Homo sapiens: one gene and its partners. Each later gene encodes a partner of the first gene's protein in a complex. Each region holds a gene or a part of one and is shown in the gene's direction. Other genes may lie near its edges. The genes, in order: NCAPD3, NCAPH2, SMC2 and NCAPG2.

Region 1 (7,071 bases):
CCTCTAAGCTCATCTCACAAGTGGGTGTGCAGCTTCCCTAAGTTTGTGTCACAAGTGAGCATGCCACTCCCCTAAGCTTATGTCACAAGTGAGTGTGCCCCTCCCCCTAAGCTCATCTCACAAGTGAGTGTGCAGCTCCCCCTAAGCTCATGTCACAAGTGAGTATGTAGCTCCCTCAAGCTCATGTCACACGTGAGTGTTCAGCTCCCCTAAGGTCATTTCATGAGTGTGAAGTTCCCCTAAGTTCATTTCACGAGTGTGCAGCTCCCCCAAGCTCATGTCACAAGTGAGTGTGAAGCTCCCTAAACTCATGTCGCAAGTGAGTGTACAGCTCCCCTAAGCTTATTTTACAAGTGAGTGTGCAGCTCCCCCAAGCTCATGTCACAAGTGATTATGCGGCTCCCTCAAGCTCATGTCACAAGTGAGTGTGCAGCTCCCCTAAGCTCATGTCACAAGTGAGTGTGCAGCTCCCCTAAGCTCATTTCACAAGTGAGTGTCCCACTCTTCTCACCATCTACTGGCTTCCGTGTTCTCCCTGGAATCCTGGTGCCATGCTCTGGTGCTGACTTCTTTCTTACTGATGGCTTTAACTCTTGCCAGATGGTGACAATTCTCAAACCTGTTTCCCACTCCAGCATTTCTCATGAGCCTGAGCTCAGGTCCCCCTGCTGCCAGGACGTGCTCCGGGTGTCTCTGACTTACTCTGTCAAAACTCCCTCAGTCATCTCTTCTTTCTGCTCTTCATCTCCTCTTTCTCCCACAGTTTATGGTGCTCTTGCAGACTGGAGTCTGGTGTGTCAGGCTGAGGCTTTTGTTGGCAGGAAGTGTAGAATTTGGATCTGAATGACTGGGGCAGAGCTTGGCTGCCACAGGCCTCTGCAGGCCTGTGTTTTCCTCCTAGCCTGGATTGCCAATGTGTATTTCCCACCTGGCCTCTGGAGGCTTTTGACTCCAAGGATATAGACTCTGATCATATCTTGCCACAAGATCCTGCCTGTTTTCTCTTACCAATCTATCTCTCTAGTTCTGACCTTATTTAAGCTTATCCCATTTCCATGGTTTCCTTACCACCCTTTCTGTTTCTGGTTTCTTTCTGTCACAGGCCATGTACCACCTTGCTGCCAGAGCAGTCTTTCTTTCTTTTTCTTTTTTTTTTTTTTTTTTTTTGAGACAGAATCTCACTGCGTCGCCCAGGCTGGAGTGCAGTGGCGCGATCTCAGCTCACTGCAAGCTCCGCCTCCCAGGTTCACGCCATTCTCCTGCCTCAGCCTCCCGAGTAGCTGGGACTACAGGCCCCTGCCACTGTGCCTGGCTAACTTTTTTTTTTTTTTTTTTTTTGAGACACAGTATCACACTGTTGCCCAGGCTGGAGTGCAGTGGTACGATCTCTGCTCAGTGCAAGCTCTGCCCCCCTGGGTTCATGCCATTCTCCTGCCTCAGCCTCCCTAGTAGCTGGGACTACAGGCACCAGCCACCACGGCCGGCTAGTTTTTTTGTATTTTTAGTAGAGATGGGGTTTCACAGTGTTTGCCAGGATGGTCTCAATCTCCTGATCTCGTGATCTGCCCGCCTCGGCCTTCCAAAGTGCTGGGATTACAGGCATGAGCCACCACACCCAGCCCAGCAGTCTTTCTTAAGTACAAATTTGATCATTTTATTATATCTGAAACAGACTAAAGGCAGGTTGACTGTGAGGGGTGGCAGGAAGCTTTTGGGTGATAGATGGTGAGTGGTCTGTAGTGCTGGTTATTCCATATAGACTTTTGTCAAAGCTCATGGAAGTGTTTGTTTAAAATGGGTAAATTTATTACATATGTTATACTTCACTAGTGAAATCTTTAAAAACTATGCTGGTGGCTTCCTGTCATCTTCTGAATAAACCCTGATTCTTCTTTTTCAAGGTAAACAAGAACTTCTGGTGTGCCTTCCACCTTTCCCATACCTCCCTCCATCCTCACCTCTAACCTCTCCACTTCAAATTGCCATCTGCACCTCAGTTGCGAGCTGCCCCCTACTCGTGTGCTCTTGCCTCTGGGTCTAAAGTCTGCAGCGCCCTCACCCACCCATCCTCCCTTCTCCACACATCCTCAGGATCATCCATCAGATGGCCATGCACTCCTTAGGCATCCCATCTCCATACCTAAATTCCCTAACACCCTGCCACTTAACACCTCTTCCCTTGAGACACACACTTTCTAGAAGTGGCTGGAGGGCAGGGATGCTTAGCTTCATTTTGCATCCTCAGAGGGTTAGCTCTTTGCCTGGACAGAGAAGGTGCTTGATAATACTTGTCAAGTGAATGCATGGAAGCCACTTCTTAAGACTATTCCTGAACATAACATCTGCTCACATCTGGGTTTATTAAATTGCTTATTTCTCTACTTGTTGTCCTTCTGTTTCAGGAACTCTGATAAGACTTTTTAGAAATGAGTAGTTTACAAGGAAGAAACATACACTAGTGACTTTAAATGAGAAGGAAAAGAGTAGTTTCAGCTTCAGGAGGATAAATCTTGCATATGTGGGCTACTATAGTGCTTTTTTTTTAATTTAAAGAGATTCACTGGAGAATATTTGTGGTTAGTGATCATTCAAGGTAAAGTGTGAAGACTTGGTCAAATCAGGTACTATATATATAAATTCATAGTATTTTGTAGATGTGTACACAGAGAGAGAGACAGAGCTGGCTGTCTTCATGCTTAGCCATTTTTAGACCATTGTCCCTTCACCAGCAGGAATACGAAGTGTCCCTCTGGGTAGCCAGAACGAGCTGACTTCTGTTCCAAGGGGAGGGTGTTGAATTGAGGACTGAAGGTGGAGCAAGAGCCAAGGTCCCTCAGGGTCTTCTGTGGAGATTTGGGGCTTTTGTCAAAAGCTACTCAACATGTTTCTAATTCTTTTTCCCCATTTAGAATATATGAGTAGTATTTGTCCCCACCCTATCTTACAAAGCCTTCAGAGTGTTTTGAGGTAATGCTTACAAAGTCTCCCAGAGAAAAGCAGAGGTCCTCTACATCCAGTATCATAATGAAAAGCAAAAATAAACTTACATAGTGTGGTAGGGTGGCTCTACTCAAAGAACTAGATCAAGGAGAGGCCTGTCTTTCAGAAGTTCATACATCTAAAACATGTCTTTGTTTGTGTTACCAGGTTCAGAAGAGGAATTTCATAGAAAATATTATTCCAATTATCATCTCCCTGAAGACTGTGCTGGAGAAAAATAAGATCCCAGCTTTGCGGGAACTCATGCACTATCTCAGGGTAAGGGTGGAGCCTGTGCTTTTGTGGTTGTTGTCCTACCAGTTCATTACTTAGGATCTTCTGCCAGTTATGACAGTGCAGGCAATCCGTGAATGATTAGAACCCCAAATTCTGCAAACCCAACATTACCTTGGTAACTGCTGTGGAGCTAGGGGTTGGCTGTGGGTTCCACCAAAGCCGCTCTTTCCCTTGGATGTGCAGCCAGGGCCGTGAAGAGCCGGCCCACTGTGCCAAGCACGTCTTCCCTTAATGGAGTTCAAGTCCATCTGGAAAACTTTCCCAGCTGGGGTCAAGAACACAGTCATCTTCGTTCATGCTGCTTGGGGGTAAGGTGAAAGTGAGTCTTCGGGTTTGATTTCAGGGTGCTTACCTTTTGCACTGACTCAGATTCACAAGGTCAGGAAATAACTGCCCTGCAGGAGCTGCCTTCGGAGCTGCCATCACCAGGCTGAATTCTTTGTCAAGCAAGGGGACCATGAGGAGCTCAGTCGGAGCAAACCCAGGATGTGTTGACTTGCAGGGCGGACCTAAGTGGGGCCTCAGACCTTTCTTGCAAAATCTTTTACTAAGAAATAAATGCAACATAGTTTTTCTTTAATTCAGCAGTTATAGCTCTGTTCACATTATGTGTTTTTCTTCCTCAAAAAAATGCTACAATTTTTTTTCCAATAAAGGCCTCAACAAAAATTACATTGAATATAAATTTTCAAATAGCTTTTTATACTAGGAAGCCAAGGTAGGAAAGATAGTCTCATTGTATGATAAAAATAAAAACTTCCAAATATTCTTGTATTTATTGCCTGACTTTAGACCCTAGAAAGGAAAAAAAAAAACAAAAACAGAGCTTTGATCCTACATAGACTACTTAAACACTTAAGAAAAATAAGCCTTCCTCCTGCTTGTGAGCACACACACAGGATGGCCACACGTTGCTTGTTGTCAGTAGCTTGAGGGAGTCTCTTCATTGGCCTGTGGAACCCACTCCTAGTGGCAGCTGGAAAAGTGCATGGATTCCTTCTCTTTGTTGAGACTTCCCTCCCAGTTGGAACTGCAGTGTCTTTTTCTCCCTATTACTGTTAGGTGGAATGATTCTTTCTCTTAGCAAAGTGGTCTTGCCCCTGGCACCCCTCTTTAAGACCTAAGAATGTTTTTCCCTAGGTATGAGAAAAGGTTTTCTGTAAAATCTTCAGAAGAAGACACAAAGATGGGATTTGAGCCTTAGTTGGAATCCCCTGAGAGCCAATGGGGAGGCTAATGTAGACAGATGAGCAGCTTTTAGATCCATGCATCCTGGGACTTGCTCCAGAGGCTGTGTCTGAGCATGTCTTTCTCCCATTGGGAACCTGGGAGAGATTGCCCATTAACTGCCACATAGCCAGGATGCTTCCTAAGAGAGAGAACTGTTAGTTACTCACATATTTTTCTGCTTGTGTGGCCAGTGGTGTTTGCTCCAAATATACCATTGTACCTGTTAGTTACTGGAATGGAAATCATCTGCTTTCAGTAATGTCAGTCCTATTGTTCCTATGATTTATCAAGCAACATGACTTGGGGGGCTTTTTTCTTTCTTAACTTTTATTTTGCGTTCAGGGGTACACGTGCAGGATGTGCAGGTTTGTTACACAGGCGAAGGTGTGTCGTGGGGGTTTAGGGCTTTACGTTTTTATTCAAGAAAACATGAAAGGATGCTCCTGGCTCTGTTTCAGGAGGTGATGCAGGATTACCGAGATGAGCTCAAGGACTTCTTTGCAGTTGACAAACAGCTGGCATCAGAGCTTGAGTATGACATGAAGAAGTACCAGGAACAGCTGGTCCAGGAGCAGGAGCTAGCAAAACATGCAGATGTGGCCGGGACGGCTGGAGGTGCTGAGGTGGCACCTGTGGCACAGGTAGGTGTGGGGCCCACTGCACTGTGACCAGACAGTCCAGTCTGCTGTCTGCTACCAGTCTGTCGTTTGTCTGGCACCTCTCAAGATCTCCGTCATCAGAGGTTAGTCAGCCCGAAGGCCTCGAGAGTGCTGCTTGTTGGCCACTCCCTCGTGCCTTTCTGTCTGTGATGGATTTACTGTGCTCCAGACCTCCCTTCCATGAGGACGTGGTGCAGGAAGCGAGCTGGCAGCAGCAGTAGCTGGTGACTATAGATCCTAGGTCTGCCAGGGTGTGTCAGTGTGTCCGCATCTTCCCCCAGCACTCCCTCTTTAGAGCAGACCGGCACACGGCCATTTCTAGGAGTAGCTGTTGCTCACCGTCCTGAGGAATGCAGGCAGATCTCTTGTAGGAAAGACCAATGAGCACAAAGTAGCATACTCCTTTTTCTCTTCTGTCATGCCACAGCATCTACAAGTGGCAGCTTTCTCATAGTATTCTGTTTCTGAAAAGGAAATTCAACTTACCCAGGGTTGATATGGCTTCAAAGTACATTACTTATGGACTTGCTCATAGTACGTGAAGATTCTATTCCAATAAAGTGTTAAAATGGAGAAAGGGAATGGCTTGTACACTGTTGGTAGGGATGGAAAGTAGAACAGCCACTATGGAGAACAGTATAGAGGTTCCAAAAAACTAAAAGTAGAGGTACCATATGAGGCAGCAGCCTCGCTGCTGACTGTATAGTCAAAAGAAAGGAAATCAGGATGTCGAAGACATACCTGCACTCCCATGTTTATTGCAGCACTGTTCACAATAGCAAAATTTGGAAACAAATGTCCATCAGTGGATGAATGGTAAAGAAAATGGGGTGCATATACAGTGGAGTACTTTTCATCTATAAAAAGTGAAATCTTGTCATCTGTTGCAACATGGATGAACTTGGAAGACATTATATTAAGTGAAATAAGCCAAACACAGAAAGACAAAGATTGTATGTTCTCATTCATATATGTGAGCCAAAAAGGTTGATCTCACGGAGTTAGAGAGTGGATTTTTGGTGATTACCAGAGGCTGGGAAGGGGTGGGAGAAGGGGGATGAAGAGAAGTTGGTTAATGGGTACCAAAATACAGTTAGATAGAAGAAATAAGTTCTAGTATTCAGTACAGTGGAGATATTACAGTTTAACAATTTACTGTATATTTCAAAGTACATAGAAGAATTGGAATGTTCCCAACACAAAGAAAAGATACTCACGTTTGAGGTGATGGAGATGCCAATTACCCTGATTTGATCATTACGTTGTCCACATGTATCAAAATCTCATATGGACCCCCAACCATGTACAACTATCATATATCCGTTTTTGAAAACTTAAAAAGTATTAGAATGTACATACTCTTTATCTTCTCTACCAGGTTGCCCTGTGTTTAGAAACAGTGCCAGTTCCTGCTGGCCAAGAAAACCCTGCCATGTCACCTGCCGTGAGCCAGCCCTGCACACCCAGGGCAAGTGCTGGCCATGTAGCAGTATCATCTCCTACACCTGAAACAGGGCCATTGCAGAGGTTGCTGCCCAAAGCCAGGTAAAGAGCCCCTGGAGGCCACATCAGGGCTGGTTCTCTGTGGCGATGTTCTCAGAGGCGTCCCTGCCATTCCCAAGCGTGGGCAGGAAAGTCATTGTCATTGTCTGGCCTGCCACCCCGCTCCACACTGTGCCCTGGGAGGTTTGAATGAGGGTGGTGAGGGATGCGCCGGTGAGGAGGCACGCGGGGACACAGTGCAGCACTGTCACCTCTGCAGTGGTCTGCAGTGAGAAAGTCAGCGGCTGTGGCTGTTCTCCACAGGCCCATGTCCCTGAGCACCATTGCAATCCTGAATTCTGTCAAGAAAGCCGTGGAGTCAAAGAGCAGGCATCGGAGTCGGAGCTTAGGAGTGCTGCCTTTC
Region 2 (7,578 bases), on another chromosome or scaffold:
GCTGCGGGTGCGAGGTGGGCTTTTCTCCTGTGGGAGGGAGGGAGGGAGGGAGGTTGGGGAAGTGCTTACTGGGTTTACCCCGGGAGGCTGGGGTCACCCCTGCCACCTCCCCCAGCCTGGCTGACACCCCCTTACCTGTAGTCCAAACTGCCTGAGCAGCGTCTCCAGCGTGGGGTCCCCCAGGGACACGGATGGGAAGAACTCCTCCACCCACTGGCGCCGCCACCACTGGCTGCAGCAGGACCCGATGTTCAGAAGCTGGAGGCACCCCGGGCTCCATACCCCATCGCCAGTGCCCAGCCTTACCCCTGCTCCTCAGCTCCTCACGCTCCACATCCCCCCCTGGTGCCCGGCCTTACCCCTGCACCCCGGGCTCCACACCCCACCCGGTGCCCGGCCTTACCCCTGCACCCCGGGCTCCACACCCCCCCCAGTGCCCGGCCTTACCCCTGCACCCCAGGCTCCACACCCCACCCCGGTGCCCGGCCTTACCCCTGCACCCCGGGCTCCACACCCCCCCCAGTGCCCGGCCTTACCCCTGCACCCCGGGCTCCACACCCCCCCCCGGTGCCCGGCCTTACCCCTGCACCCCGGGCTCCACACCCCCCGGTGCCCGGCCTTACCCCTGCACCCCGGGCTCCACACCCCACCCGGTGCCCAGCCTTACCCCTGCTCCCCAGGCTGGGAGAACCAGTACTTGTAGCGCTGGGCTCGGACGTAGGTGGGCGGCTGCTTGTGGAAGGGATACCTGGCCACTTGGCTCTGGACAAGGCGGATCACTGCAGCGAGAGGCATCAGCGTGGCCCCCACAGTACCCGCCCTGCCCCTCCCCTCCCCACCCCGCTCCACCCCAGCCCACTCCACACCCCCCAAGCCCGCTCCGCACCTGGCTCCTTGCCCTGCAGCAGGCGCAAGACCAGGCTTGTGAACCACGGGCTGTGCGTGTGTGGGCCCAGGGCTGCAAACCACATCTGCCAGTCCAGGCGTGGCTGGTGGGGCACCACAACCGGGGGCGGCCGGCTCAGGTTCCCAGGCTTGTACATGAACTCGATCTCCTGCCAGGCAGGCCGAGGTCAGCTGGGCCCGCTGACCTGGGCCCCACCACCCTGCCCGCCCTGGGAGGGCTCACCGTCCAGTGGTGGCCGTCGTAACTGCCCTCCAGCACCACCTCAGGCCGTCCACCAAGCCCAGTCATGCGGCGGAAGAGGCCGTAGGAGTTGGCCAGCTGTAGGTGCTCCACGGCACCAAACAGGCGGTGGGCCCCGGTCCAGAGGCGCCCGTGGGTCCCGGGCTCCACGTAGGAGTACGGCACCTGGAGACAGGTGGGAGGTTCTCAGGGCTGCCCTGCCCCCAGCCCATCCCCCAGCCCTGCAGCGCTACCCACCAGGCTAATCAGGAACAAGGCCACGGTCGCAGTGCCCACAAGGGACAGTTGGACTACAGCACTGAGCTTCCGTAGCCAGCCCCGCACCTGGGTCCACCTGTGGGCAAGGACCCAAGGTCGTCAGGCCGGCCCTGCACACCTGTGCCCCCTCCCTGCTTCCTGGGCCATGTACCTCCACAGGGCACTCAGCAGCTCCCAGACCAGGGAGGCCACACCCAGCCACACAGTGGGCAGCGTCAGTGTCTTCAGCCACTGAGAAAACTGGTGGAAGGTGAAAGCTGGTGGAGGAGGGGGGTGTGAGGACTGGTCCGCCCCTGCCCTCTGGCCCCCCCAGGTCGGCACTCACTGGTTCTGGAGTGGATGGTGCGCTGCTGCCAGTCAACCTCCAGGCCAAAGTAGTGCACAGTGCCATAGGCCAGAAGCCCGTAGACGGCTAGTTCCAGCAGCAGCGACAGGGTGGCCAGCAGGGCCTTGGGCCAGGCTGTGGGGCAGGACAGTCATGGGTCAGCAGAGGGTCCCCAGCCAGGGGGCTGGGGTGCAGCTAGAGTGGGAGTCCTGTGGGGGTGTTGGAGGGGAGAACCCCTGGGAGGGCAGGGGGCTGGACAAGTGACACGCACAGGTGGCCGTCTTCTTGCGGCTGCCGTGGCCAGGCTCAGCAGCCAGGTGCTGGTCGTCCAGCAGCGCAGTGGTAAGCACCAGCGTCATCAGGTTGAAGAAGTTGTAGTTGCCGGTGATGATAATCAGGACCTGCAGCAGCACCTGGGGGCGGCCCGCTCTCAGTGCTCCCGGAGACTGACGCCTGGCCCCGTGGCAGGCACCCACCTCCACCCTGCAGGGTGCATCCCTCTGCTACAAGGCCTTCCCAACAGCGGTTGCCAGCTGTCCCCGGGAGCCACGCTGTCCCCAACAGGGCACGCTGAGCAGCGCTGAAGGCCGAGCCCTGTCTGCCTCTCTCTGACAGCTGCGGCCCTCACCCACCTGCGAGTAGAAAGCAGCCAAGCGCAGGCGTCGAATGGGGGCGAAGAACAGGGGCGGCACAGCGATCTCAATTAGGAAGGTGGCCACCACGCTGAGCTTGTGCAGCCAGACCGGCAGGTGGTGTGCGAACCAGGCGGCGGGCGTGGGCAGGCACTGGGTCTCGTAGTGGTAGGTGAGGGCTGCAGGCGAGGGCAGGAGTCAGGGCTGGCCGAGCCCCCAGACTACCCCAGGTCCAGACCGGGCCCCTCACCAGTGAGCCCCCACCACGCAGGGCAGCGGCTGGTCAGCTTGACCACGCCTGAGGCGAACATGAGGCGGAACAGCAGCCATCGCACCAGCCAGAAGGGGAGGTCTTCGTGGGGCAGGGCCCCTGCCTGCCTGCCCTGGGGGGCCTCCTTGCGGTGGGAGGCTGGCCTCAGCGGGGCCACCAGCACGGCCAGGAAGCCAGTCTCTAGCAGCAGGGAGTCCCTATGGGGAGAGCAAATAGCACCAAGAGCCCCTCCCCACACAGCTGCTTCCCTCGGAAAGTCCTCCCAGGAAGGGCAGAGCCCTCCCCCACCCCCTACCCAGCCTCCCACAGCCCCAGGCCCAGCCGTCACTCACCACTGGAAATAAAGGAACACCTGGCCCACCTGCGGAGAGAGGGGCTGTCAGGGAGCGGGTGTGTCTGTGGACTCAGGTAAGGTAGAGGCAGGGGTGGGTGGTGGGGGTTGGAGATAGAGTGAGCTGGTCACAGGTCCCACTTGCCTGGCAGGCTGACAGGTAGGCGGCCCAAAGCAGCAAGTAGATGACAGGGTGGCGCAGTGGGCTCAGCAGCAGGGCTCCCAGGGCCACTAGTGCACCCAGCAGGCTCAGCAGCTCCAGGCCCTGGGCCGTGTCCAGCCCCAGTCTCGGCGCTTCCCACAGCAGCGTCGGGGTCTCCCACAGCTGCTGCCAGCGCCCCTTGCCCTGAGGCCGCAGCGTCCTCCTTGCAGGTAGGATGCCCTCGGGGCCATACAGGCCTGTGGGAGGGCATGTCATGGCCAGGCCCTGGACAGCCCTTGCAGACTAGACTACCTCTGAGTCAGGGCCTGCAGATCCCCCAGCCTAGGTCAGAGCATGCGGATACCTCCATCCCTAGGTCAGAGTCTGCAGTCCCTCCAGAGCCCGTCCCCCAGGTCGGGACCTGTCAAAACCCCGTCCCAGGGCTAGAGGCCTGCTCAACTACCTGAGTCAGGGCCTCCCACCCAGCAGAGCCCACTGCCCTCTTCCAGGTCTCAGCCCGATCTCCTACCTGTCCCACCAGGTCTGGGAGGAAGCCTCTCTCCCACCTCTCTCAGAGTTCTGTCCCCCACCCCAGGTCAGAGTCCAGAGCCTTACGGGAAATGGATCACCGCACACCTTCCTACCCCCACAGCGGCCTGCAGGACACGAACCGCCGCCCCCTACCCCACGCCAAGGCCTGGCCCTCACTCCCAACCCCGGACTGCGTGAGTGCCGGGCACAGAGAAAAGAGGACATAGGGTCCCGCGCCGAGGCTGGGGGTGTCCCACCCTGGGTGCCTTCACCTGGGATTTGCGTGTAGAGGGAAGCGAAAGCAAACATGAAGACGGCCGCCACGCCCTGGAGGAAGAGCTGCCGCGGGAGCCGGGAGCCCGCCATGTCCGCTACGCGGCCCGCTAGAGCAGGGCCCGCCCTCCGCGTCCGCCCGCCCGCGGCAGCCCCAGGCCCCGCCTCCTCACCGCCCCGCCCGCCCAATCCGTGGCAGCCCCAAGCCCCGCCTCCTCGGCCCGCCCGCCCGCCCGCGGCAGTCCCAGGCCCCGCCTCCTCACCGCCCCGCCCGCCCAACCCGTGGCAGCCCCAAGCCCCGCCTCCTCGGCCCGTCCGCCCGCCCGCGGCTGCCCCAGGCCCCGCCTCCTCACCGCCCCGCCCCCCCAACCCGTGGCAGCCCCCAAGCCCCGCCTCCTCGGCCCGCTCGCCCGCGGCAGCTCCAGGCCCCGCCCCACCCCGCCCCGCCCGACCCACGGCGGCCCCAAAAGCCCTCCCGTCCAAACTGGTGGCAGCCCAAAGCTCCGCCCACCCCCCCCTCCCGGAGGCTTCGACCCCGCCCCGCGACTCTTCCGGTGAGCTCCCGCTGCGCGGCGCCGGGGTTCGCCTCTCTGGCTTTTGCCCACGTTACGTCATAGACATGCGCGCGACGCCGCGCCTACGCATTTTCCTGGGCGGGAACAGCAAAATGGCGCCAGAACTAGTGGCGGGCTGAGGACGCCGTACCCCTCGGAAGGCAGCCCTGCGGTCCCTTTGCCGCCCGTTCCCTCCCGGACATGGAGGACGTGGAGGCGCGCTTCGCCCACCTCTTGCAGCCCATCCGCGACCTCACCAAGAACTGGGAGGTGGACGTGGCGGCCCAGCTGGGCGAGTATCTGGAGGAGGTAAGGGCGGCGGGGGAGTGACGCGGGGTGGGCCGGCGGGTGGGGCTGCGGGGCGGGGGCTCCGGGCCCGGGGCTGTGGGCGCCCCACCGTCTCCACGCCTATGGCTATCTGGCGCTCTGGCCGCGCAGGTCCTCGGGCTCCCTGCTTCTTTTCAAACTCCATCTCTGCCTCCCCAAATCATCCCTTGTTGGATTAGCGTGGACCTGTCATTGCAGGTTTCTACCCGTCAGCGAGCCGTGAATGATTGAGTGGGTGGTGACCAGCCGTTTCTCTAACGTAGTGGAATAGACTAGAAAGCATTATTGCTTTTATTGCAGTTATTGCGAGCATGCTTGTGTGTTTGAGAGGTCTGGATCACGATGTCAGAGGAATTTTTTATCTTGGATTTTCAAACCAATTTCAAGCTATTGCCATGCTCTATCCTGTTAGCGATTAGTGTTTCTTCCATGTTTGACAGCCCTGTCTAGACCTGTGTTAAGCTGTCTGCTCCATATTTGCGCTTCATTTTTACTCCTCAGCCCAGCTCAGTCTGGCGTCCACGACACTTAAATGTTTCTTGTCTTGATCAGCAGTGATCTCCATTCTACCAAATCCAAGGGACATAAGTCAGCATTTGTTGGACTGGCCACTCCTTTCTTTTTGAAACATGGTGGTAGGATTTTTTTTCCCTATTTCATTGCCTGATTTTTCTTTTCTATCCAGTCTCTAAGTGTTGAGTTCCTCAGGATGGGGCCTAGGTCATCTTCTGATGCATTTACCCTGAAGTGTCATTTATTTCTATGATTTTAAATATTGCCTGTATTAGGACAACTACCAGATCTGCAGCTCCATCCTAGATCTTTCCTCCAAATCTACTTTACATATCCAGCTGCTCTCTTGACATCTAGTGGGTGTCACGCAAACATCTCATTTAACATATTTAAAGTGGAACTCTTCATTTTTCTGCTTAAACCCCAGCTTTTCCCATCTCGGAAAATGACACCGCTGTTCAACCAAAAGCAAAAGCTAAATGTGGCTATAGTGAAGCCCCATGCTTAACACTCAGTTCATCCATGAATTCCATCAGTTATACCACCGGAATATCACTTGAATTCATCTGTTGTCCATTTTATTTGGTCTAGGCCACCATTGTCTCTGGCCTGGATTTGTGTAAAACCTTCCTATTTGGGTTCCCTTATCCCTGTTTTTGTCCCGTCCAATTCGTGCTCCAACCAGCAGCAAGTGTGACTCTTAAAAATTAAAATCTGGCCACAGCACTGTTTTCTGCCTAAAATCAACCCCTCAGTGGCTTTCCATTATGCCCAGAATAAAACCCAAATTTCCTTCTCTGAACCTGGCTCTGCTCTCCATTTTAGCCTCATTTTGGGCTGTTTTGTATCTTGTTCTTTTGAACCAGTCAACCTATGGCCCCTCCAAGCTTTTTCTTGGTGGAAGATCTTCATGCTTTCTGCCCCCACTTGGGAATCTTCTTTTTTGTTTTTATTTATTTATTTATATATTTTGAGACGGAGTCTCACTCTGAGACGGAAGTGCAGTGGCGCGATCTGAGCTCACTGCAAGCTCCGCCTCCTGGGTTCACATCATTCTGCCTCAGCCTCTGCAGTAGCTGGGACTACAGGCGCCCGCCTCCACGCCCAACTAATTTTTTTGTATTTTAGTAGAGACAGGGTTTCACCGTGTTAGCCAGGATGGTCTCGATCTCCTGACCTCGTGATCCGCCTGCCTTGGCCTCCCAAAGTGCTGGGATTACAGGCGTGAGCCACCGCGCCCGGCCTCTTTTTTGTTTTTAAATAAAGAGGGACTTCATATGGCAAGGAAAAGGAGAAAAAAAAAATCAGAGAGGAGGATCTTACTGTGTTGCCCAGGCTGGTCTCAAACTGCTGTGCTCAAGCAGTCCTCCTGCCTCAGCTTCTCAGGTAGCTGGGACTATAGCTGTGCACCACCACACCTGGCTGGGAATATTCTTTCAATGACTGAGTTTGTTTTCTTTTCTTTTTTTGAGATGGAGTCTTGCTCTGTTGCCCGGGCTGGAGTACAATGGCAGAATCTTGGCTCACTGCAACCTCCGACTCCCAGGTTCAAGCAATTCTCCTGCCTTGGCCTCCCGAGTAGCTGGGATTACAGGCATGCACCACCACGTCCAGTTAATTTTTGTATTTTTAGTAGAGATGGGTTTCGCCACATTGGCCAGGCTGGTCTCAAACTCCTGACCTCAGGTGATCCAGCCAGCTCTGCCTCTTTCCAAAGTGCTGGGATTACAGACGTGAGCCACCACGCCTGGCTGACTGAGTCCTTTTCATTCTTAAGGTCTTAGTGTAAATGTCAGCTGACCACCCTATCTAAAATAGTCCTCTCCATCTCAGCACCTTACACACTTTAGAATGTTTATCATAAACCATTTAAATTTTTTTTTTTTTTGAGATGGAGTCTTACTCTGTCGCCCAGGCTGGAGTGCAGTGGCATGATCTCAGCTCACTGCAAGCTCTGCCTTCTGGGTTCACGCCATTTTCCTGCCTCAGCTTCCCGAGTAGCTGGGACTACAGGCACCTGCCACCACACCCGGCTAATGTTTTGTATTTTTAGTAGAGACGGGGTTTTACCGTGTTAGCCAGGATGGTCTCGATCTCCTGACCTGGTGATCCGCCCGTGTCGGTGTCCCAAAGTGCTGGGATTACAGGCATGAGCCACCGCGCCCAGCCAAAAAAAATTTTATTTATTTATATGTTTTTTTTTTGAGATGGAGTCTCACTCTGTCACCCAGGCTGGAGTGCAGTGGTGCAATCTCAGCTTGCTGCAGCCTCCAC
Region 3 (7,806 bases), on another chromosome or scaffold:
CAGATGAGAGGTGAGCTAGGTAGCTCTGGCTATTAACCAGCATGCAAGTGATAAAAGCCAAGGATAGCTGGAAAAACAGAAAGAAACGAATATAAAACAAGTAAGAATAGAACTTACTTCATGAGTAGTACATGAAAATTTTTTTTTTGAAAAAGCTCTGTCACCAGGCTGGAGTGCAGTGGCGCGATCTAGGCTCACAACAACTTGTGTCCGCCTCCTGGGTTCAAGCGATTCTCGTGCCTCAGCCTTCTGAGTAGCTGGGATTACAGGCATGCATCACCACACCCAGCTAATTTTTGTATTTTAGTAGACGGGGTTTCGCCATGTTGGAACCAGGATATTCTCCATCTCCTGACCTCCTGATCTGCCCACCTTGGCCTCCCAAAGTGCTGGGATTACAGGCATGAGCCACCGTGCCTGGCTGAAAATACTTTTTTAAGACCTAGTACCAGACTTCTTTAGAGAAGTAATTACTAGTTTTTAGGAAAAGTGACTTTGAATAGAGAATGTGAGCTCTGTAAGGAAGGCTCAGGAGGAGCAAAACAAAGATCACTGATGTTCTTCACGAAAAGTAAATGAGAAGACCTCCTCCAACATGGTCGACTGAGCTTTCCTTTATAAACTCATAGAAATAATGGATAAAATATAATTATTGTTCTATAAACCATATACAACCGTAAAAACAAAAAACAGCAAAAAGGAAATTCTCAGTGCCTGAAATAAATTTTAAAAATTGAAGAGCAGAAAGCAGAACAGATACTGCGGTAGCCCTCCAAAATTTTATACTTGGCTATATGCCTCAGGAGCCAGTAGTTGAGTTTTAATGTCCAAGCACAAGGCTGAGCTTTGATGAGGCAGGTGAGCTGGAACTAAGCCCTTATGTAAAACCTGGAGCCTTAGGAATAGCCAGCTACCGGAACTGGAAAAAGGCAATCTACTAGTTTGGGGAAGCGATAAAGAAGTTTGTTCTTTGGGGCTTTGGATAGGGTGGGAAAAAAAAAACATAAGGTACCTATGAGAAATCAAAACTGCAGCCCTGCAACAGATCTAAATATACAATATTTGCATAATTCAGGAGCCACAAACTGAGAAATTATCATTTGAAAATGCTTCAGATCTTTAAGAGCTACGGTATGCTGGCAGAAGCAAATGCATAATTGTCTAAAGGGACTCTTTTGCAACTAAGGGTGTAAGAGAGTCCCATAAACAAAACCATCCCACTGAAGAAGAGCACCACATGAGGAAATAAATCACTGAGTAAGAGTCAGTGGAGGTCGTAAACAAGAGTTAGGAACTGAAAAGCTAAAAATAACAGAACTAACAGAAAAGAAGATAAAATAAAGACATATAACTTGATTAAAAGGACAAAATAATAGAAATCATAATGAAAGAAGAGGCAGAATTCACAAAGAACCAAACAGAACATGTATTTTAGAAAACAATATTGTCACTGACATTAAAATGAATGGGTCTAACCAGTCCCACTGGGTGAATGAATATAATAACCTCCTTTTCTATTCCTCATTTTAAATTATACTTAGCTGTGTTTCTTTGCAAGTTTGTCAAACAGGTTATATTCGGTGAACCCACAGTTCAAATAATATGGCGTTAGAAATAAAATACAGTCATGCGTTGCCTAACGACGAGATACGTTCTGAGAAACGCCTCATTAGGCAATTTCATTGTTGTGCAAACATCATGAAGTATACTTAACACAAACCTACATATTATAGCCTTATGATTCTAGACTACAAACTTTTATAGCATATTACTGTACTGAATAATGTAGGTAACTATAACACAATGTTGTGTTTGTGTTTCTAAACAGAAAGGGTAGTATGTTGCACTACGATGTTACAACATCACTAAGCAACAGGAATTATCCATTATAATCTTAAGGGACCACAGTCACATAATGTAATCAGACATTGAAATATTATGTGGTGCACGAGTGTATTCAAAAAGTGCTGCCAGGCCACTGCCCTCCAGCCTGAGACAGAGTGAGACTCCTTCTCTGAAAAAATAAAAGTGCTGCTAGTCAATCCAATGTAAAAATATAAACTTCCTGTCATTATCAATTCATTTCCTTGAACCTAAAAATAATCTCTCAACAAAATGAGTCTTCCTTACTTCTGCGGTAAAGTCCTTTCTTTTTTTCTTGTCCTTTGTTCCAAGGAGAAAGGATTCACTCGGGTCCCTGTGAGAAGAGCTTCTTTAGCACTCTAAAATTAGAAAAGTATACCCAGGAGAGAGCAGGTTCCTTCCAGTTCCCTAGGAGAGTAGAGCACCAAATATTTCTCCTAGGTCTTGCTTTGTGGCTGTATGTGTGTCCTTGCTGGTACTGATGATGCCTTCCATATAAGGACTCAGACTCCACTAGCTGCCAGATTTCTGCTTGAAACACTGCCCGCTAGCGTTGAAGCTTTCAAACGATTTTAATCCATGGTGATGAAGCAAGAACAGTGTTTTCTGTACACTGCATCTACCCTATACTCTCTGTTTCTACCCCTCACATCTCCAAATTAGGGGGCTTCACTGGCTTTGTGCCTTGGTTTTTTCCACTCACCTGTGTGATCTCAGGAGGCAGAGTTTCAAGTTAGTCATCAGTGATTTCCTCAAGTCCATTTGTCTTATATTTAGCAGCAATTCCTTAGTGCTTCTGGCACGCAATAAGACTAAAACTGAGAGATCTCCACCTTTATAAGCATTTTTCATTTTAATCAATGGTCTTAATGGGAGTAGTTAGATCTGCACATTCTTCTAACCACCCAGGAGTCCTTATCCAACAACAGTGCACTTGTGTATGTTTTCATCCATGTGACGTAAGTGTATCAGCTAGTTGTTAAAGTGCAAAGACTAACAGTCTGTCTTAACACATATTTCCATACCAAAAAATCACTTTATTTCACAACGTGACAAAGTCCACATTAGGATTTGTTGGCAAATTAAAATTCTTTACTCACAAAATGATAAAAGGAAGGAGACACAGCTCAAAGTTAATGTGTAAGAGTTAACAGAATCAATACAAGTGAATAGCTGTGGAGCCCAGGGGATGCAGGAATCAAGGCAGACAAAGATATCTGTTGAATTAAATTAATGTTAGGTCACTACCCATGGTTGACATCACAGAAGTGGATAAGCATACCAGAGTAAACAAAGGAATCCTTTCTTAAACAAAAAACCCATACAACTTATTTTACTCCCTTATCGAGAAATATTTTCAAAATATAAGCCCATTCCTGGTAGGTTAAGACCAATTCAGATGACTGCATTGCCATTCCAGGGCCAAGAAAGCAACTTTAAAAACATGACCTACGCTATGGTCTAAATGTGTCCCTCAAAATGCACATTTTGAAATCCTAACTCCCGAACTGACGGTTTTAGCAAGTGGCATCTTGGGAAGTGAGGAATGGGATTAAGGTCCTTATAAAATAGGCCCAAGCGAGGGCCTCTGCCTCTCCACCATGCGAGGACAGAGCCAGAAGGTGCTATCCACTAAAGAGAAAGCACCCCTCCCTAGACACACCTTATTCTGTGACATTCCAGCCTTCAGAAATGTGAAGAATAAACTTCTGTGGTTCATAAACTACCCAGTCTAGGATATTTTGTTATGGAAGCCCAAAAGGATCAAGCCATTCCAAAATAGCATTGTTGCCCACACCATCTTTTTGAACCTCACTTAGGGTAACACCATACCCATTCGGAGTTAAGCCCTTCCTAACTCTTAAGTATCAACGTGCTTGGAAACGTGAGCAATCCTGACACGTTTTTTCTTCCTAAAGAACAATACATACTAATAATAGGATCGGCTAATAATACTAGATTCTATGCATGAAGCCTAGTATTTAAAAGCATGCAATCTGGAGCTAGACCGCCTGGGAACAAATCCCAGCTTACTAGACAAGCTGTTTAACCTTTTACTTGGTCTCATTTAACTCATTTGTAAAACGAGGGCAATTTCTGATTTCATAGGGTTGCTACGTGGATTTTAAAAAGCCCCTTGCAATATAGCCTAATATTCAGAACTCAATAACATGAACTGTCTTAAAAGGTTTCCAGAAAAAATCCCCAACAGGTTAGGTCGGCTTATCATTACAACGCTTTCCGGTATAAGGGAGATGAATAGCTATTTAGCACCACACAATTTCTCCTCTGGGCTCGGAACAGCTCTCGGTAGACTACGATCCCTTTCCGACGTGGAAACTTCAGATAAAAACGCTCCCCGAGGTCCGAGGCCAGTACGGGGCGGAGCCAGGACGCGGGCCAGAGTCCCCCGAAGGACGGTGCCTCTCTGGCCCCAAGAAGTACAGCTTTTATTTTGCAGCAATCTGAGCCAACCCGAGAAGATTCTGAAGCTTCCAAAACAGAACCGACGAGAACACTCATAGAATGCCTCTCCACTTCCTAACTGTCGCTTTGAGGAGAGAAAAGTAAGCCACAGCCAGCACCGCAGACTGGAGAAGGCGGAGTCTGCAGTGTGCCTAACGCGAACTAGAGGGACCGAGGCGGGGCGGGGCTGGCGAAGCGCGAGGACCCGGGGCCGAGGTGTGGGGCTGACCATAGAGTGCCGGACGCCGGTGTGAACATACACTATCTGCTCCTGTAGTGCCCAGGCCCCTGCCGGGGAGTCCCCGGAGCTACCATTATCGAGACTCTCATTCTATTGCCCTGCGGCTTTAATCCTTCGAGTGTAGGGGAAAAATTGAACCCTAAAGACAGGCAGCTCCTAGGCACCAGCACAGGAAATAAGCAATGGAGGTGGGGTCCTTTGCTCGCGCCGAAATTCAAAGGAATAAATAGTTCCGGCGCGGGTGTTGAGAGCGGTGTGGCAGGTGTTGTAGCCGCTATGGTGAAGTTCGCTTTGTAGCGGCCCCGGCTAGAGAGTTGTTCTGTTCCCTGCCTTTGTGACCCGGAGGAGCTTTTGGGGTGCGTCAAGCCCCTGGCCTGAGGCAGCGGTGAGGCGTGTGCGTGAGCACGGCCGGTTGGGCCGGGCCAGACTTCCTGGCGGGAGGCGGGAGGCGGGAGGCGGGGCGCGGGGCGCGGGGGCTGTAGGGAGGGGGACCAGTGGCAGAGGGACCTTAGGTGATCCTTAGAAATAAAGGCTAGCTTCTGTTCGACCTTGGAGTAGGGCGAAGAGGTGTAGACAGGCCTGGAGAAGCGAGGTAAAAGCCTGAGTAAAAGCAAGAAGTTGGAGAATATGAGATACATCTCATCTCTAGTAAATACTTAAATGACTTCCCCTCCTCCCGGAGTCAAGCACAATTCGGGGATGCAATGACGGACGTAGGTGAAGACACTGCGGGAACTTACAGACAAGTAATGACCGTCTAATATCAGCTTTAAGTACCATGAAGGAAAAAGAAAGCCGAGTGAAGGATTGTGGAGAGGTGACATAGGGAGGTCAGGGAGGACTCCAGTAAGGTGACATTTGAGCAAAGACGTGAGTGCAGTAGAGAGTAAGCTATGTCAGTATCAGAGAAAAGCACATTATAGGCAAAGATAATGGGATATGTAATAATCCATAGTCTTTGTTTAGGTAGAGTATGATAAAAGTAGAAGGCAAGCCTGGAAAAACGGGTAGAAGAAATAGTTAAGACTTCCCAGTTGAATGGTTTAATTTCCAGATAGTGGCTAACTCTGGTATATTTTTGAGTAGATGAACGATGTCTTTACATCAGACAAGATAGTTTGTCAAGTGGCTGTTTTATTTCTATCACCCTATCGTTGCTGTTTTTGCCTCGTGTTCATTATGATTCCAGGTTTACATTCCACTTAGGTGGTGGTATTTCTGTTTCGTACAGAACTGGTTTGTGGCCTGTTTGATTCCTGTCAGAGGTTTGCTGACCCAAGACAGTATCGAAAATGCATATTAAGTCAATTATTCTAGAGGGATTCAAGTCCTATGCTCAGAGGACCGAAGTCAATGGTTTTGACCCCCTCTTCAATGCTATCACTGGCTTAAATGGTAGTGGGAAATCCAACATATTGGACTCCATCTGCTTTTTGCTGGGCATCTCCAACCTGTCTCAGGTAAAGTGTAAACTTTCTGATTTATTTGAATTTAAGTTGGCAGGAGAATCCTCACTGAACTTTGGAGACGTCCCGATATTCTCTTCATTTGTGTTTTTATACTTTTTGTAAATTACACCTCACTGCAACCTTTTAAGGAAAGTAATATTACTCCTTTAGATGAGAAAATAGAAACTTAGAGATGTTTAGAAGTAACAGTGCCTCAAAACTCAGGCATTCTGACTGTAAAGCAGTCTCATTCCAGAGTATTTTCAACCCTGTGTAATGATGCCTTTTCAAATCCTATTAATGGATTGAATGACTAGTGAAAATCTTTGGGACAGTATTTCCTTATATCTTGCAAAGTAACTTTTTATTAAAAAATGAATAGGAAACAATTCAATTCAGGGTTGAAAAGGTTCTGTAGAGAAAAGTGTCCATTGCAGGTTGTTGCCTATTTTCCTTGTTTTTCTTGCCAGAGGATGCAGCTGCCTAACCTTGTCTACTTAATGGACACTACGTTGGTGGGTTTTCCAACAGCAAGGGACCCATTTTTAGTGCTGCTTTGTACGGTAGGGAGTTTTGTAATTGTTACACTTTTCATATTTTATTTTAGGTTCGGGCTTCTAATTTACAAGATTTAGTTTACAAAAATGGGCAGGCTGGTATTACCAAAGCCTCTGTGTCAATCACTTTTGATAATTCTGACAAAAAGCAAAGTCCTTTAGGATTTGAGGTTCATGATGAAATCACAGTAACAAGGCAGGTGAGTGGCAATTAAACCTTTGGGTATCTTAAGACCTTTTATGTCTGATGTGGTTTTTGGCCCTATGCCTTTGCAAAACGTGCTAGAGAAAGTTCATGAGCAAAATTGGTGCCTTAAATTCTGACTAGATTCCTTAATGTCTTCCTTATATTAAAATCTTGATCATGCACATTCTATCACTAAGAGGATTGAAAGACAGCTGAAAAGTTGTTCATCCAGTATAAGCACTCAGCTATGCTGAAATCTTAAACCATATTTGAATCTTCTTTGGTTGTTCTTGAACACCTGTGTACTTGAGATCTTTCAATCTTCTGAGATAACCCATTCTGTTTTTGGACAGGTCTTATTAGAAAGTTAACAGCTATAAGTTTTGTCAGAGTCTGCTGTCTTCAAATTTTATTCATTAATCCTAGTCCTCTTGAGAGCACCAAGAGCAAATCTAACTTATTCCCTACTTCAGTGTTTAAGTGATGTGCAAGTATATGTGTTTTAGTTCTAAGTGAAATCTTGCCAGGTCTTTCACTTGATGTTTGTTCCTAGTTCCTTCACTTGCCTGATTATACCAAGTATGCTCCAGTTTCCCTCCCTGCTCCTGCATTCATCTATCTTTCTTTCTTTTAATGGCACCTTAGATTGGGTGTACCAAAATTGGTCTAGTTGGAGTTATTCTTTCATTTTAGATATTCTACTTTTATTTTTCCCAGTAGAGCATTGGGGTGTTCATAATACATTGTGGATTCATATTAGATTTACTTGAAACCACTCAATTTTTTTTTAGGTGTGTTATTAATATAGTCAGGCAGTGTTTTCAGCTTGTCAAGGTTTTTTTTTTTTTTTTTTTTTTTCCTGAGACGGAGTCTCGCTCTGTTACCCAGGCTGGTCTCCATCTCCCGGGTTCAAGAGATTCTTCTGCCTCAGCCTCCTGAGTAGCTGGGACTACAGGTGCCCACCACCACACCCGGCTAATTTTTTTTTGTTTTTTGTATTTTTAGTAGAGACGGGATTTCGCTATGTTGGCCAGGGTGGTCTCA
Region 4 (7,071 bases), on another chromosome or scaffold:
AAGAGAGTAGATAGAAGTGAACAAGCGGAGGTGGAAAAAGCTAGATGAAAAATGAAGGAGCGCTAAGAAGAGGAGAAAACAAACACCAGGGCAGGAGAGGAGCTAGGAGAGCAGGAAGAGAGGATGGGGGGATGGAGGGCTTATGAGGTTATCTTTACTCTAGTTCCTCCATCTTACTGTGTTTTTTATGACCCCGACAGTTTTGAAGAGTGCAAGTGGCTCTTTTGTGGTATAGCCTTCAATTTGCATCTGTTGAGGATCTGATTAAATTTTAGTGTGCATTTTGGCAGGAACTGCTTAGCAGTGTTAGGTCCTCGGCGCTGTCAAGACAGGAAGCGCATGGCATGGTCTGTCCGTCCCTGTGTGGGTAGGTGTCCGCCAGGTCTCTTCTGGGAACCTGCCTCTGTGGGAAAGTGGTGACACTGTAATGTCCTGCTGCTCACCAGGCTTCCACCCACTTGTTTCAGCATCTCCCGATAATTCCTGCCAGAGTCCATAATTATTGTGATGGCTATAAAACAGTGATTTTCTAACCCTGTATTGCATCTATGTTTATTCACTGACATTCTAGAGCATGCAGGTGCTATTAATTAATGATTTGATATTTATTATCAGTATGCTGTCATTGATTTTTTCTTTTTAGAGACGGGCTCTTGCTATGTTGCCCAGGCTGGAGTGTAATGGTACAATCACAGCTCACTGCAGCCCTCTCTCCCAGAGTGGTTGGCTTGGCCTCGTTTATGCTTATTTCATTCAACTGGTTATAATTAATCACTGTCACTGTTTTGGTGCTCACATTGTTCCAAATTTGGCTATAGGGAGTCCCTTTAATTGGATTCTATGCCCTTTTGATGAGGGCCGCTATTTGCTTCATCAAAGAGTACGTGAGGTCATCTCAGATAAGAGGAAATGGGTTTAGAGGGTTGTTGGAGGAGATCTGAAATCATCTTGTTGGCTGGTGGGAGAGAATGATATTGAGGAATGAGTAGAAGGTGGTGTTGAGGGCCCACTTGGGGCTGGAATCTGTGGCCACAGTATTATTATTGCCATTGTTATTGAACTTTAGCCTACTTTTGTAATCTAATTCTAGGTATGGAGATGGTGGACATTTGGGTCCCTTTTAGGGAGGGTTTTGCTAAGTGGGTGAAATTTTAAAAACTCTGAAGATTAGGATGCTAGGAAAGAATAGGTGGAGAATCCCTGTGCTTCTTCCCTTTTAGGAATGGATTTTGAATACTGCAACCAAACTCTTGAACTTGTAATGAAGTTAACACTTAACTTTTCTTTTGATGACATTATGAAAAGGATATGATTAATTTTTTGTATTTGAAATGTGACACTTGCTATTTATGTTACAGAAAGAGGCCTCTGATCCTTTCAGCCTAAATGAATTACTAGATGAATTATCAAGGAAACAGAAAGAAGAATTATGGCAAAGGCTGAAGAATTTATTGACAGATGTGTTGTTAGAAAGCCCAGTGGATGGGTGGCAGGTAGTGGAAGCCCAGGGTGAAGACAATATGGAAACCGAACATGGCTCAAAAATGGTAGTATTTGTTTTTCAAAAATAAGAAACGTTTTTCTCTTTTTTTTGTCAAAAAATAACTTCACTGTGTATCATTGAATTTTACATTAAGACAGATTTTGAAGTTAGAAGTCAAGAATTTTAGAAGTTTAGTCTGTTGTAGTTTTATTCACTTTTCAACCCTACTGTTATTAATCTAATACTAAATATTGCTGTTCTTTTAGGATGATTTACTTTTATTCAACTTTAATTCTTTTTAGAATAAGCTAGAATTGTGGCTTGATTTTTAGAAAATTTGTAACTGAAATTTCTGCTAAAAACTGATTTTAAGTTGATGATTTTAATTCACTCATGCTTTGATTTTTCATTTATAGAGAAAAAGCATAGAAATAATTTATGCAATTACATCTGTGATTCTTGCTTCTGTGTCTGTAATAAATGAAAGTGAGAACTACGAAGCCCTACTGGAATGTGTTATTATATTAAATGGTGAGTTGATTTTGTTATAAATGGCATATTTAGAAGTGGGTGTTGAAATACTTGTTTTTGTTTCTGTTTTTATTTATTCATTCATTTATTTATTTTTTTTGAGACGGAGTTTCGCTCTTGTTGCCTAGGCAGGAGTGCAATGGCGCGATCTCAGCTCACCGCAACCTCCGCCTCCCGGGTTCAAGCGATTCTCTTGCCTCAGCCTCCCTAGTAGCTGGGATTACAGGCATTCACCACCACGCCCGCCTAATTTTGTATTTTTAGTAGAGACAGGGTTTCTCCATGTTGGTCAGGCTAGTCTCAAACTCCTGACCTCAGGTGATCCACCCGTCTCAGCCTCCCACGTGGCTGGCCTGAAATGATACTTTGTAAAAGGAAACTAGTTGTTTTCATGAGCATTGTTGAATTTAGTAGCAGAAGTTGTATAAAGGTATAGCTTTGCAGTCAAGTTCTTTTTCTTCAGCTAGAATAGGAGCATACTTACATAAGAGTTGTCCTGAATACTTATTTATTTTATATTTATCATTTTTTTTTAGAGACAGAATCTCGCCCTGTTGCCTATGCTGAAGTGCAGTGACATGAACCCAGCTCACTGTAGCCCTGACCTCCTGGCCTCTAGCTATCCTCTCACCTCAGCCTCCTTAGTAGCTGGGACCATGGCCCATGCTTTTTGTTTTGTTTTGTTTTGTTTTGTTTTTTGGTAGAGACAGGATCTAACTGTGTTGCCCAGGCTGGTCTCAAACTCCTGTGCTCAAGTGATCCTCCCACCTTGCCCTGGCAAAGTGCTGGGATTACAGGCATGAGCCATTGTGTCTGGCCTAATTAGTTTAATTTAAGCTCCATTCAGATGTTATAGATGGTGAGATGGGCAGTACTCAGCAACTAACTGCTATTTACAGGTTTTTCAGGGAAGTCTGACTTACTGGACCAATGATCAAGAACTTGTTGAGAAGAAAATACCTGATTATGTGATTACCATTGCTAGATAGTGTCAACTTAACTAAGAATTTGTGACACTGAATTTTTTCTTAAAGTATGTTGTGAACGTGATCTGAGGAGTGATTATTGACTCCTAGGGGAGTTTTACTGTATTGAAATTTAAATGATGGTACTTTTCAAGTTTTAACAAAACTGTAAAACTAGTTATTAATTTAGTCTAAGTTAATGAAAATATTTGATTATGAAATATATAAAATTTTAGTTACAAAAGATGTAAAAATATCTTAATGATTTTTAAGAAAACTTTTCACATACCCTCATCCTTCACTGTGCGAGTGTAATTAGTTTGTTGTGACAAAGTATCTCATCAAGCTTCTTATTCTTAGCATCACTTGGATTTATGTATGTTTTATAGTACATTGTTTTATTCTGAATTCTTGAGTTGAAATACAGTGTCTTATTAAAAAGTCACCCCAATCATAATGAAAATAGCTTCCAAATGCTTTGTGAATTTTACTATCAGTTTATTTGTATGGTCTGCAAATAACTAGTGAAATGATTAGTGCTAACACTGTAGTTGCTATCAACTTCCCAGTTAATTCAGGAATGTTATATTAGTGTAATGACATTCAGATACCTACAGATTATAATTATGAGCATTAGTATCATTAATCTAATTATTGAGCTTTTCTGTTAATAAAAGCACTGCAGTTTTTGTATTCATTATGGTAATTGCTTTGACTGTTTTTCACCTCTGAGCCAAAATTTGAGGCTGGCACATTGAGGGATAGTAGTGGATTATTGATTGGTCAGTAGACCTGTCTTGGCTCTGGTGTTAACAGAGATACCATTGGTGTTGTTACACTGAGGTTTGGTTAGCCTCAGCATCTGCCTTTCTAAAATTGGTGATACGATTTCTCTGAGACTTCCAGTTCCAAAAATCTCTTTTCTATTATGTCTGTTGAGGGTCTTTTTATAACAATCGTCAAACAGTTTTTTAATTAACATTATTTGCATTTTATAACTAATGTATATAAATCTTTGGCAAGTTAAACATAACTAATATTATTTGCTTAGCAAAGCTTTAAATAATATATAAAGTCATGATACTCTAAACTGTTGACTCTGAAGTAATAAGAATTTGCCTTACTAATTGGAAAATTACTGTGCTGTATTTTAGGTATTTTATATGCATTACCTGAGTCTGAACGAAAACTACAGAGTTCTATTCAGGATTTGTGTGTTACCTGGTGGGAGAAAGGCCTGCCTGCCAAGGAAGACACAGGAAAGACAGCCTTTGTCATGTTACTAAGGAGGAGTCTGGAGACTAAGACAGTATGCTCACTTTTTATTTTTTTAAAGACAGGGTCTCTCTCTATTGCCCAGATGGAGTGCAGTGGCATGATCATAGCTCACTGCAGCCTCAAACTCCTGGGCTCGAGCAATCCTCCTGCCTCAGCCTCTCAAGTAGCTGAGACTTCAGGAGTGCACCACCTAGCTAGGACTTTATTTTTAAACGTCTTCCTAACATTCTAAACCTGCGCTATTCAACGTAGTAGCCACTTGCCACAGAAAGCTGTTTAAATTTAAAGTTAAAAATAATGAAAAATTCAGTTCCTCAGTTGCATTAGTCACATTTTAGTAGCTCTACAGTGAAATGTGGCTAATGTCTACTGCACTAGACAGTTCAGATGTATAAAATCTTCATCATCGAGGAAGTTCTTAAACTTGCTGGATTTTTAATTATTTTCCTTATGTTTTAAAAAAATGTTCTGTAGAGCTATAGGGGGCATTTGCAAATTTTAAAATCTGTTTTTATTTGTCGTTATTTTTTAATCTTTGATGAATCAACTAGAATTACCATTATTTATGATATAAAATATACTTGATTTGAAATATGACTTTACTGTTCATTGAAAAAGGTATCACATTTTTTGTGTCATTCCTAGGGTGCAGACGTATGTCGGCTTTGGCGTATCCATCAAGCTTTATATTGCTTTGATTATGATTTGGAGGAAAGTGGAGAAATTAAAGATATGTTACTTGAGTGCTTCATAAATATTAATTATATCAAGAAAGAAGAGGTAAATAGGTATTTGTTTTTTGATCTGTTTGTGAGCTGCTTCTTAATAGATGTTTCTCCTGTGTTCACATGGTTCCTGTCTGCACCATGCTCGGTGTTGCTTAGCTACCAGGAGCTATTTACTGCACATGATTTTTACTGCATGGCAGTACTAGAGAAGACATTTTACAAGTCCTTGCTTATTTCATCATTAAATTGGATGGTAACAGGTGGCTGTGTGTTACCTAGGGGAACCGTAATTACATTTTAAATTAAGAATGATTAAAAATAAGGTTGAGAAAGCACTTCTCTATGAATGAGATCTGGCCTTCTGCCCTAATTCCATTTTAATTGCCATGTACTCAAAACTGTCATCCCATAATATCCTCCCTTTCTTTTTTCTACCCATCCTGTAAATCCAGAGAGGCTTCTGGCCTGTTGCTGCACTGCCCGTCCTGGGGTCAACTCCCATATGAGGCTACTGAGCACCTGAAATGGGACCCAACTGAACTGAGATTAGCCATAAGTATAAAATACACATGGATTTGAAGATTTAGTGGGAAAGAAATGAACATAAAATAGCTCATTAATAATTTTTGTTCTATACTTAATATAATAGACAATATTTTTATTGTCTGTTATATTAAATATTGCTTTACATAAAATATATTATTAAAATTAATCTTCTTTACTTTTGTTAACATGACTACTAAAGAATTGAGAATTACAGAGAGGCTCGCATAGTTCTTCTGTGTTAGGGGCCTTCTGCAGTTGTTTACTGAGCGTCGACTACATGCTCAGGCAGTGCCAGGGGAGACTAGAACAAGCTTTTGCATTTGGATGCTCATGGCTCAGCAGGCACATCTCTGAGGCAGAAGGAGGAAGTCATCCCTCCTCCCTGAAGGAGGTGGAGAAGGGCTTCAGAGGAAGAGGAGGACCAGCTCTGAGGTACAGAATAAGTTTCCTCCAGGTGTCACAGCTGCTCAGCGGCAGAGACAGAACTGGACCCCGGCGAGCCATCTGCAGTCTGCTAGACAAAGGGCCATGTGATTAGGACTGAGACCTTTGGCTCCCAGGGTCTTTGTTCACTTTATAGGTGGTGCCCTTGGTCAGGCCTTTCAGCCTCAGAGTTTTGTTCTGTAAAATAGGAGCAACAGTTACTGTTTCACAGGATTGTTGTTAGGAACAGATGAGGTAATATGTATCAAACCGCAGCCCAGGCGCTGGTGGATAAGAACCCCTGGGGAGGGCTGCCCTTTGCCATCCTTGCTGTGTCAGCACCATCGTTATTACAAAGATGTTGGACACAGCCTGTGCCCCACACATGTCTCCAGGATTGTTCTGAAATGGGAGAGTGAAGAAATTAATGATGGATTCAAACAATAAACTATTTTATGTTGACTTATACATAAGGAGTTGATGAATCGTACTTGTTAACTTATATATGTGTGCAGATATATAACAGACATAAATGTATGTATGTGTTATAACCTCTACCCTTTTTAAAAAATTGATGTCTCCTTTGAATTTAAGATATCTAAATGTAGTTTCCTAATCAATCATTAATTTGGTCAGGTCAGTTTCCAGTCATTCTGGGTAAACCATAAACATCTTGTACTGTACTAACAGATTACTTCCAGTGAATATTACTGTTTTTTTTTTTAACTTGCCTGTTGTGAGCATGGTTACCCTGCATTTGAATCAAAATGTATTGCATTTCTGTAGGATTCCAGTTCTGTGCAGTGGTGTGCTGGTAAGAGATGAAGGTGCTATTCACTGAGAGAGTTCTAGATAGATGCATCTTATGCACTCTATAGAGTATGAAGATTGTATTCATTCTTCTTAGGTTCAGATACATAATCTAGTAGCATGCATATAAATTATCATCACATGATGTATTTATGACTTGAAGACTGTGTATTTGGAAATTCTAGCTTGACAAACACTTAGCCTTTTAACTATATGAGTCCTCAGTTTTCTCATCTATAAATGAGAAGGTGAAATGAACTGGGATATTCAACTCCATTCCCACCCACCTATGCTAGATTTAAAGCTT

What was found.
Region 2: the proteins of NCAPD3 (region 1) and NCAPH2 are in contact, whole or in part, in a cryo-EM structure (PDB 9F5W), measured with the Homo sapiens proteins. Residues at the interface, in NP_056076.1 of Homo sapiens: Arg589, Pro591, Met629, Glu680, Arg683, Tyr684, His690, Lys724, Glu793, Asp800, Gln803, Arg804, Arg807, Gln817, Leu820, Gln865, Leu866, Cys867, Pro868, Ala869, Arg870, Val871, Val918, Ile925, Lys929, Leu932, Gln933, His934, Ala956, Asn960; in NP_689512.2 of Homo sapiens: Trp22 (codon at 4,729), Ser68, Lys69, Glu72, Tyr75, Tyr79, Leu82, Asp83, Ser86, Ile144, Ile145, Pro146, Leu147, Leu148, Met150, Ala151, Leu152, Val153, Asp156, Glu159, Asn161, Asn162, Asn163, Pro164, Leu165, Tyr166, Ser167, Arg168, Gly170, Leu173.
Region 3: the proteins of NCAPD3 (region 1) and SMC2 are in contact, whole or in part, in a cryo-EM structure (PDB 9F5W), measured with the Homo sapiens proteins. Residues at the interface, in NP_056076.1 of Homo sapiens: Asp31, Met72, Ile80, Pro127, Gly128, Ala131, Phe135, Pro137, Asp141, Lys235, Gln237, Gln240, Leu1121, Asn1196 (codon at 3,160), Asn1200 (codon at 3,172), Pro1203 (codon at 3,181); in NP_001036015.1 of Homo sapiens: Arg112, Ala122, Asn123, Asn124, Thr125, Arg126, Leu218, Lys222, Arg225, His229, Trp940, Asn942, Ala943, Glu944, Phe948, Arg981, Met985, Arg986.
Region 4: the proteins of NCAPD3 (region 1) and NCAPG2 are in contact, whole or in part, in a cryo-EM structure (PDB 9F5W), measured with the Homo sapiens proteins. Residues at the interface, in NP_056076.1 of Homo sapiens: Glu1213 (codon at 3,211), Lys1216 (codon at 3,220), Ile1217 (codon at 3,223), Pro1218 (codon at 3,226), Leu1220 (codon at 3,232), Gln1247 (codon at 5,019), Ser1250 (codon at 5,028), Glu1251 (codon at 5,031), Tyr1254 (codon at 5,040), Lys1258 (codon at 5,052); in NP_001268861.1 of Homo sapiens: Phe291, Lys332, Pro333, Ile334, Trp336, Lys340, Ala341, Arg342, Arg347.

The regions. Positions count from the first base shown.
Region 1 is NC_000011.10:134,157,968-134,165,038, reverse strand, and holds part of NCAPD3 (condensin-2 complex subunit D3), read left to right. Parts: intron 1-3,147; coding exon 3,148-3,258; intron 3,259-4,964; coding exon 4,965-5,147; intron 5,148-6,543; coding exon 6,544-6,710; intron 6,711-6,971; coding exon 6,972-7,071.
Region 2 is NC_000022.11:50,503,673-50,511,250, forward strand, and holds the start of NCAPH2 (condensin-2 complex subunit H2), read left to right. Parts: upstream 1-4,551; 5' UTR 4,552-4,665; coding exon 4,666-4,773; intron 4,774-7,578. Other genes in the region: LMF2 (lipase maturation factor 2), read right to left, coding at 1-27, 136-232, 668-779, 887-1,055, 1,130-1,312, 1,385-1,481, 1,557-1,662, 1,731-1,865 and 6 more. UniProt on the Homo sapiens protein: Regulatory subunit of the condensin-2 complex, a complex that seems to provide chromosomes with an additional level of organization and rigidity and in establishing mitotic chromosome architecture.
Region 3 is NC_000009.12:104,089,523-104,097,328, forward strand, and holds the start of SMC2 (structural maintenance of chromosomes protein 2), read left to right. Parts: upstream 1-4,786; 5' UTR 4,787-4,955; exon of another isoform or gene 4,956-4,964; intron 4,965-5,104; exon of another isoform or gene 5,105-5,316; intron 5,317-5,776; exon of another isoform or gene 5,777-5,801; 5' UTR 5,802-5,862; coding exon 5,863-6,030; intron 6,031-6,625; coding exon 6,626-6,775; intron 6,776-7,806. UniProt on the Homo sapiens protein: Central component of the condensin complex, a complex required for conversion of interphase chromatin into mitotic-like condense chromosomes.
Region 4 is NC_000007.14:158,687,785-158,694,855, reverse strand, and holds part of NCAPG2 (condensin-2 complex subunit G2), read left to right. Parts: intron 1-1,358; coding exon 1,359-1,547; intron 1,548-1,899; coding exon 1,900-2,014; intron 2,015-4,133; coding exon 4,134-4,288; intron 4,289-4,902; coding exon 4,903-5,037; intron 5,038-7,071. UniProt on the Homo sapiens protein: Regulatory subunit of the condensin-2 complex, a complex which establishes mitotic chromosome architecture and is involved in physical rigidity of the chromatid axis.